2 separate regions of the Homo sapiens genome follow, and region 2 is reported to be linked to region 1. The links are microRNA targets in miRTarBase. Many come from high-throughput screens and were not tested one by one. Region 1 holds a microRNA gene; the other region holds the end of a gene's coding sequence.

What was found. The annotated mature microRNA hsa-miR-1537-3p reads AAAACCGUCUAGUUACAGUUGU and lies in region 1 at 1,552-1,573, shown strand. An mRNA with a match to its seed (bases 2 to 7 or 8) in the 3' UTR can be bound and repressed. Matches are read on the target gene's strand: a 7mer-m8 pairs with bases 2 to 8, a 7mer-A1 pairs with bases 2 to 7 and ends in A, and an 8mer does both.
Region 2: the mRNA of PMAIP1 is a reported target of hsa-miR-1537-3p. Seed matches in the 3' UTR shown: 7mer-A1 at 1,139-1,145.

The regions. Positions count from the first base shown.
Region 1 is chr1:235,850,173-235,854,572 of GRCh38, reverse strand. It overlaps MIR1537 (microRNA 1537), which reads left to right and starts at 1,513; the gene lies at 1,513-1,573. All of the region lies in intron 1 of LYST (lysosomal trafficking regulator), which reads left to right.
Region 2 is chr18:59,902,077-59,906,476 of GRCh38, forward strand. PMAIP1 (phorbol-12-myristate-13-acetate-induced protein 1) reads left to right here. Exons shown (of 2, transcript NM_021127.3): 2 at 571-2,229. The coding sequence ends at 677. Among named protein-coding and RNA genes, the nearest start is that of PMAIP1, 4.3 kb to the left of the region's middle. RefSeq lists an enhancer at 2,750-2,919.

The DNA of each region.
Region 1 (4,400 bases):
ACCCAAGGTCATAGAGCAGCAGATGCAGAGGTGAACCAGTAAGTGGTCAAGAGGGAGAATTGACTAGGCACTAGATGAAGTGCTATTCTGGTTTCTCACCTCAGTCACTGGGTAGAGGCCATTTACTGAAAGAGGAATGAAGAAGGAAGAGCTGGCTTATTGGAGAGAGAAGTCAATGTCTGCTTTGGAGAATAGAAATTTGTATATAGAATACAAAGGGATTGCATGAGTCTGAATCCTGGCCCTGACACTTAGTAACTCTGTGACTTTGAGCAATGACCTAACCTTACTGTGCTTCAGTTTCCAATATGTGTCAACTAGGGATAATAATGTTACTTAGGAGATTGTTAGGAGGATTAAACTAACTACTCTACTTACCTAGAGTGCTTACAATAGTGCCTGATGTGTAGTAATTAATCACTGTAGGTGTTAGCCAGATTATCATCATCATCATCATGCTATAAAAATCCAAAGGTCTCTTTTGAGGAGGGATGTAGTAGTCAGTGTAAAACATCTAGCACATTCCTTCTAACAGGGATAGAAAGCCGGGGAGATGATTTACCTGGATGAACCTTCATAGTTCCTTTAAATGCCGTCTCTCTCTCTATAGCTACAATATCTCAGAATTTCTACCCTTTTGCGGTGCTCAGGGCCAAACACAGGTTCTTCCTGAGATATCTGGTTGCCGAATTTGTTTGTTTTTAGGAAAAATGAACTACCTGTTGAAAGGCTTAAGTTTGGTGCGTTTTAGTGTGACTTCCTCTGAATTTCTATTAAAATTTTGCCTGGCTGCCCTATGCCTGAGTTTCCTTTATTTCCTGGCCAGCTTTGTTCTGCAAGGAGCCAGAGTAACCTCTCCTCCCTAGGTCAGCGCCCCAGGTTTCAAGGCAGCCGGAATGGCATGTTAACCAAGATTTCATGGGCTTGGGGAGAGGGGTAGCGAAATAGGCAATGTTGTTTATTGACACCCTGAAATATGAAAAAATAATATGTACACCTTTCTGGGCCATTGCTGTCTTAGATTTCCATTCTTCCCCCAGAACTACTGCCTTACTGCTGTTATACATGTTTTTTTTTTTAGTTTTCTTTACACAATTCTACATAAATTGGAAATATTTCATTAAACACATTTTTCTACTTTAACTTAGCTTAAATGCATAATACAGAATAAATATAGGAACAGCACAACCATTTATTTCCATATTCACTAGTTAAGGATTATTATATTCCCACATTTTAAATATAGAACATCTAGTTCAGAGCCAATTCTTAACCCTCCGATGCTGAAATTTCTGATGCTCTTTAGAGCTGAAGGTGTTACTTCTTGTTAAAATGTACATACTTCTTTTCAAGAGGAGCAACATTTTTCTTCCAAGTCATTTACTTTTTGGTATAAATGTACAATGTGGAAACATGGAAAAAGATAACAAAGCTGTAAAACATCTTGAGAAGTTTGTGGGGGGGCAAGAAGTTTGTGGTGCTTGGAGGCGTGCCTGGGAGTTGGCACTAAGTACAGCTGTAATTAGTCAGTTTTCTGTCCTGTCCACACAGAAAACCGTCTAGTTACAGTTGTAAGTTGTGCCAGACCTAATCGCTAAAATGCTCTGAAAGGTAGAATTCTGAAAGATATAGTTTGGTTGTGAGTAGTCTGTCAAAAATTGTATGCAGTATTAGGAAAAACATTGGATAGGACTCTGCAGACCTAGCTGTTAAGTCCTCTGACTTTTGGGAAATCTCTTAACTGCTGTCTGCCTTAGTTTATCTGTAAAATTTTGAGGGAGGTGATATGGTCATTAACCCAGAGATCGTTTAACTCTCTGAAAGTTGATTGTAGAATGGATTCTCATTTTAAAATAATTTATTAAATGCGAACTCTGGCAGTTTTCCTTTATTGTCAATCAACTTGTCACTTACCTCAGTATTAGTTGAAAAAATGTCTTTTGAGTATGGCAGTTACGTCTTACATATGACTGTGTTCCAGAGGCTCATTTCTAAGATGGTTGTTGAGAATGTTTAGAATGCATAAGATTTGCCCTTACAGACAAAATAAACTACAGTATACTTGAGTGTTGCATTGTGAGACTTCCCCGGGAAAAAGGTCCGGCAAAGTGCTGAGATTACCTCAACATGTCTAACTGGCTTACTGTTTGCCTTACGTGGTACTATCCTACTTTTGGGGCCCTTTCCCCAGATTGTTGGAGCTACCACAAATGGCTTTGAGGTACAGGAATCTCTTCTCCCTCCCTGACAGGCAGGGGGCTGGGGGAGAATGGGGCAAAACATATTGCTAGCAATTCAAGTTGGAACTCTGAATTCATTTTCCCATTGAGGCATGAGTTGTTACTAAGATTCTGTAGGGTCTGTAGTTAAAAGCCTTAACAGCATTTCCTTCCTGAAGCTGTCCCAATGTTAGTATCTACGGAACTGGAGACCACAATCTTTATTTCCTAAGAATACATGACATCTTGACTTCTAGTCAGATGCTCCTTAATGCACTCTTCAGAGAAGCAAGTTCAGTATTTGTCAAGAAGGGCCTGGGCGCTAAACAACTGCTATCATTTCTTTTAAAGTTAATAGATTCAATGAAAGTTGAACATACCACGAAGTATGGTGAGTAGTCAATAAATATGGGATCATGATTTGTCTTATGGAAGATTTCAGTTTGTGAAACCATTTATATTATTGTTAAATTGGTTTTCATGAATTTTCTTATTCAGTTATTTAATTTAGAACTTTAAGTGTCATATCTTTCCCTGATCTGCATTTTAAATTCCAAGAGGAATTTGATCACACAAAGCCCATTAAATATTTTAATTTCCCCTATTTAGTGAGTACCAGATTTTGCTTCAGTATTCTCGAGAGTGTATTTATTATCCACTATAAAATAGATTATAAAGGTTTTTATATTAATAAAAGTAAATATATAAAAATAATATTCCTAATGAACTTTGTTTTGTCTTTAGTTAGGAATCATTCTTTTTTTGCCAATAAACCTTTTTATTTTTATTATTTTTAATTTTTCCATCAGTTATTGGGGTACAGGTGGTATTTGGTTACATGAATAAGTTATTTAGTGGTGATTTGTGAGATTTTGGTGTACCTATCACCCAAGCAGTATACACTGTACCATATTTGTAGTCTTTTAATCCCTCGCCCCCCTCCCACTCTTCCCCCCAAGTCCTCAGAGTCCATTGTATCATTCTATGCCTTTGCATCCTCATAGCTTAGCTCCCACATATCAGTGAGAACATATGATGTTTTGTTTTCCATTCCCAAGTTACTTCACTTAGAATAATAGTCTCCAGTCTCATCCAGGTCACTGCAGATGCTGTTAATTCATTCCTTTTTATGGCTGCATTGTATTTCATCATATATATATATATACACACACATATACATACATACTTACATACCACAGTTTCTTTATTCACTTGTTGATTGATGGGCATTTGGGTTGGTTCCACAATTTTGCAATTGTGAATTTTGCTGCTATAAACGTGTGTAAGTATCTTTTTCAAATAATGACTTCTTTTTCTCTGAGTAGATACCCAGTAGTGGGATTGCTAGATCCAATGTTAGTTCTACTTTTAGTTCTTTAAGGAATCTCCACATTGTTTTCCATAGAGGCTGTACTAGTTTACATTCCTACCAGCAGTGCAGAAGTGTTCCCTGTTCACCACGTCCATGCCAACATCTACTGTTTTTTGATTTTTTGATTATGGCCATTCTTGCAGGAGTGAGATGGTATCACATTGTGGTTTTGATTTGCATTCCCCTGATCATTAGTGATGTTGAGCATTTTTTCATATGTTTGTTGGCCATTTATATATCTTCTTTTGAGAACTGTCTATTCATGTCCTTAGCCCACTTTTTGATGGGATTGTTTTTTTCCTACTGATTTGTTTGAGTTTGTTGTAGATTCTGGATATTAGTCCTTTGTCAGATGTATAGATTGTGAAGATTTTCTCCCAATTCTGTGGGTTGTTTGTTTACTCTGCTGACTGTTACTTTTGCCATGCAAAAGCTCTTTAGTTTAATTAGGTCCCAGCTATTTATCTTTGTTGTTATTGCATTTACTTTTGGGTTCTCTGTCATGAAATCCTTGCCTAAGCCAATGTCTAGAAAGGTTTTTCCAATGTTATCTTCTAGAATTTTTATAGTTTCAGGTCTTAAGTTTAAGTCCTTAGTACATGTGTAGTTGATTTTTTGTATAAGGTGAGAGATGAGGATCCAGTTTCATTCTCCTACATGCGGCTAGCTGATTATTCCAGCATGATTTGTTGAAAAGAATGTCCTTTCCCCACTTTATGTTTTTGTTTGCTTTGTCAAAGATCAGTTGGCTGTAGGTATTTGGGTTTATTTCTGGGTTCTCTATTGTGTTCCATTGGTCTATGTGCCTA
Region 2 (4,400 bases), not on the chromosome of region 1:
ATATCAGCGTTTTTTAACGAGAAAAAGAATACCTCTAGATTTGCCTATATAATGAGAGTATAACCTAAGCTGTAAATTATTGCCATTTGAAAATCAAATCCTACTTGAAAGCCACACAGAACTTGACTTCTGTTTCCCAGCCAACCTTAAATGAAGAGAAAAAGATGACATCATCTAAGGCTGGTGACTTATGCTACTCTTTGTAGCATTGCTTTTAAAATAAACAAAGTGGTTTTACAATGTTCTCACATCCCAAAGAATGATAATGCTACTCTTTGTGGTATTTGACATATTTGAAAGTAAGGTAACACTTGCCTCATCCAGGATGCGTTTTTTAAAAACTCAAAGTAAATGTCTTTATTCTTACCTTAACGATTGCTTTCGGTGAGTCACAATGTGTGTAAGTGTGTGTGTGTGTCACATTTGGAAAACAGGTGCACATAAAGCCAAAGTTAAGAGAAATGCTTCCTGGGATACTCAATTTGTCACTAGTGTGGGCGTATTAGGTTTTGCTGGTTACAGTCTGTAATATCATCAATGTTCATGTCCATGTTTTGCTTTCCTTCTCAGAGCTGGAAGTCGAGTGTGCTACTCAACTCAGGAGATTTGGAGACAAACTGAACTTCCGGCAGAAACTTCTGAATCTGATATCCAAACTCTTCTGCTCAGGAACCTGACTGCATCAAAAACTTGCATGAGGGGACTCCTTCAAAAGAGTTTTCTCAGGAGGTGCACGTTTCATCAATTTGAAGAAAGACTGCATTGTAATTGAGAGGAATGTGAAGGTGCATTCATGGGTGCCCTTGGAAACGGAAGATGGAATACATCAAAGTGAATTTCTGTTCAAGTTTTCCCAGATTATCATTCTTTGGGATGAGAGAACATTATAAAACCACTTTGTTTATTTTAAAGCAAGAATGGAAGACCCTTGAAAATAAAGAAGTAATTATTGACACATTTCTTTTTTACTTAGAGAATCGTTCTAGTGTTTTTGCCGAAGATTACCGCTGGCCTACTGTGAAGGGAGATGACCTGTGATTAGACTGGGCGGCTGGGGAGAAACAGTTCAGTGCATTGTTGTTGTTGCTGTTTTTGGTGTTTTGCTTTTCAGTGCCAACTCAGCACATTGTATATGATTCGGTTTATACATATTACCTTGTTATAATGAAAAAACTCATTCTGAGAACACTGAAATGTTATACTCAGTGTTGATTTCTTCGGTCACTACACAACGTAAAATCATTTGTTTCTTTTGACTCAAATTGTATTGCTTCTGTTCAGATGATCTTTCATTCAATGTGTTCCTGTTGGGCGTTACTAGAAACTATGGAAAACTGGAAAATAACTTTGAAAAAATTGGATAAAGTATAGGAGGGTTACTTGGGGCCAGTAAATCAGTAGACTGAACATTCAATATAATAAAAGAACATGGGGATTTTGTATAACCAGGGATAATAAAAAGAAAAAAGAAGTTAATTTTTAATTGATGTTTTTGAAACTTAGTAGAACAAATATTCAGAAGTAACTTGATAAGATATGAATGTTTCTAAAGAAGTTTCTAAAGGTTCGGAAAATGCTCCTTGTCACATTAGTGTGCATCCTACAAAAAGTGATCTCTTAATGTAAATTAAGAATATTTTCATAATTGGAATATACTTTTCTTAAAAAAAAGGAACAGTTAGTTCTCATCTAGAATGAAAGTTCCATATATGCATTGGTGAATATATATGTATACACATACTTACATACTTATATGGGTATCTGTATAGATAATTTGTATTAGAGTATTATATAGCTTCTTAGTAGGGTCTCAAGTAAGTTTCATTTTTTTTATCTGGGCTATATACAGTCCTCAAATAAATAATGTCTTGATTTTATTTCAGCAGGAATAATTTTATTTATTTTGCCTATTTATAATTAAAGTATTTTTCTTTAGTTTGAAAATGTGTATTAAAGTTACATTTTTGAGTTACAAGAGTCTTATAACTACTTGAATTTTTAGTTAAAATGTCTTAATGTAGGTTGTAGTCACTTTAGATGGAAAATTACCTCACATCTGTTTTCTTCAGTATTACTTAAGATTGTTTATTTAGTGGTAGAGAGTTTTTTTTTTCAGCCTAGAGGCAGCTATTTTACCATCTGGTATTTATGGTCTAATTTGTATTTAAACATATGCACACATATAAAAGTTGATACTGTGGCAGTAAACTATTAAAAGTTTTCACTGTTCTTTTCTGTGTGTTAATTTTGTCTTCATCTTGTAAGCTACTAATTACTAAGTGTTCATTATCAAGCCAAAGTATTTTAACTGATTTCCATCAGCAGACATCCTCTGACCTTCTGACCACACTGTCTCCTCCCAGTAGTTGGAGTAGAAAATATAGGGGAGTTTGCATGATTTCTGCTCTCAAGGGACTTACACTTTAATTGGGAGGGGAAATAGTGAAAAATAGGAAATGAATGCCCAACATAGGTCCTTTTTTTTTTTTTTTCTGAGACAGAGTCTTGCTCTGTCGCCCAGGCTGGAGTGCATTGGCACAATTTTGGCTCACTGCAACCTCTGCCTCCTGGGTCTAAGTGATTCTCGTGCTAAAGCCTCCCCCACACGCCACCACACTGGGTAATTTTTGTGTTTTTAGTAGAGACGGGGATTTCACCATGTTGGCCAGGCTGGTCTTGAACTCCTGGCCTCAAGTCATCTGCCCGCCTCGGCCTCCCAAAGTGCTGGGATTACAGCCTATACAGATTCATGATCTAATTAGAGGTGTTTTGTGAGCTGGCATCCTTGACTGCTCCTGGGTCTGTCTGGCAAGAGGAGCTGCAGTGCAGTTTCCTTTTTGGTGACCTCACGCTTCTTCCTCTGCTTCCAGCCGTAGAGTAGCAAAGATTGCTTCATCTGAGGTTAGTCATGTGCAAAAGTAGGTGTAACTCAATGGCCTTCCTGTTTGAGTGTGAGAACTAAAAGATACCCCTAGTTTTTAGCTTCAATCTGGTAGCCACATCTTCACCCCACCTCTGCCAAGGGAAAGAGTCAGCTGACACCTTAGAATGTAAATTGCCTTCCTAACATGGGAAACGTGAGGGAAGAAGGAGGAGTTACTAGAGGAAAAGAAGAACCAGAGAGCTGGAGGATGCAGGGTTATGGGCAAGATACATAACAATCTGGAGGGAGAGGCTTTTCTCTGGGAAAGTGGGGTGGAGGTGGGAGCTTGGCTTCAGAAAGGGTGGGGACAAACTACATGATTTGATTTGAGAATCACTGGAAGAGTAACTCCTGTCTCTGAGCCTGCTCGCATAGCCAGAATTGTTTTGCTAAAAGTGCACCTTATTAGTTCTCGCCACCACTAGAAAACAAGGAAAAAAAGTGTACCTCAGGCTCTTCTTTTATATAAAGAGTAGCACATGAAGGCTTAGGCACAGATTCACAATCTTCAGATATTAGAGCTATATATTCTTTGAGAACCATATTTTAATGTTAAAAAATGTCCAAGATGTTCAGGCAATTCTAATTATATCTGTTGACTGACAAAAACTGCTAGCTTTTAAATTTGCATTTATATTATAAAAGAAAATGTATCTATCTGTGAATAAGTTGTTCTTCACTTTAAAGAACTGTGTGCTGTGATTTGGGTTTTGGAATCCATTGCAATAACTCTACAAACTCCTCCCTGCCCCACTTCCTCTCAATCACGGAGCAGAAACCACCTAAAGGGTCAAAAATCCTGTAAATCTCATTGTCAATCGTCAAAGGGGACGATCCATCAGGAAGAGAACAAACACCTTAAAAATAGAATAGTGACTGGAAGTGCTGCGGTACAAGGAGTATCCCACTTTAGAATCTTGAAGGTGGACTTTCAAGGCAAAATCATGAATGAGCTGTGTGACCTTGGGCAAGACAACCTCTCTGAGCCACAGTTAATCTCTGAAATTGAGACTTAGATCATCTTTAAGGTCCCCTGAAGTTTGAATCATAAAATGGGATGGCAAAGGAGTCTGAAGGTCTCCCACCATAGTTCCAAGTCTGTCGGCCCCCACTCCTGAGCTCATTTCAGACACTAAGAGGAAAGTTAAGGGTTTGCAAAAAGAAGCAGGGGAGTGGGATTTTAAAAGACCCCCCCCCCCAAATTTCTGTTTTCTGGATTCTTCCCCCAAACATTGATTCTAAATCTTAGAGGAGGTTGAGTGGGAACCTCTTGGACTTGTATTTTCTTAGAAAGGGGAGTTTGCTATGCATGCAAGCTTTCCCAGTGATTGTATCACTGCCAGAATTCCTTCTTATGTGGAGCTGAAAGTAGATAGGGTCACTTGATAGACATACCCTGCGGTGTCATCACGTGAATCTTCTCAAGTAATAGTTCATGGTTAAAGAGCAAAACATTTGTCAATACTGCCCAGGCACT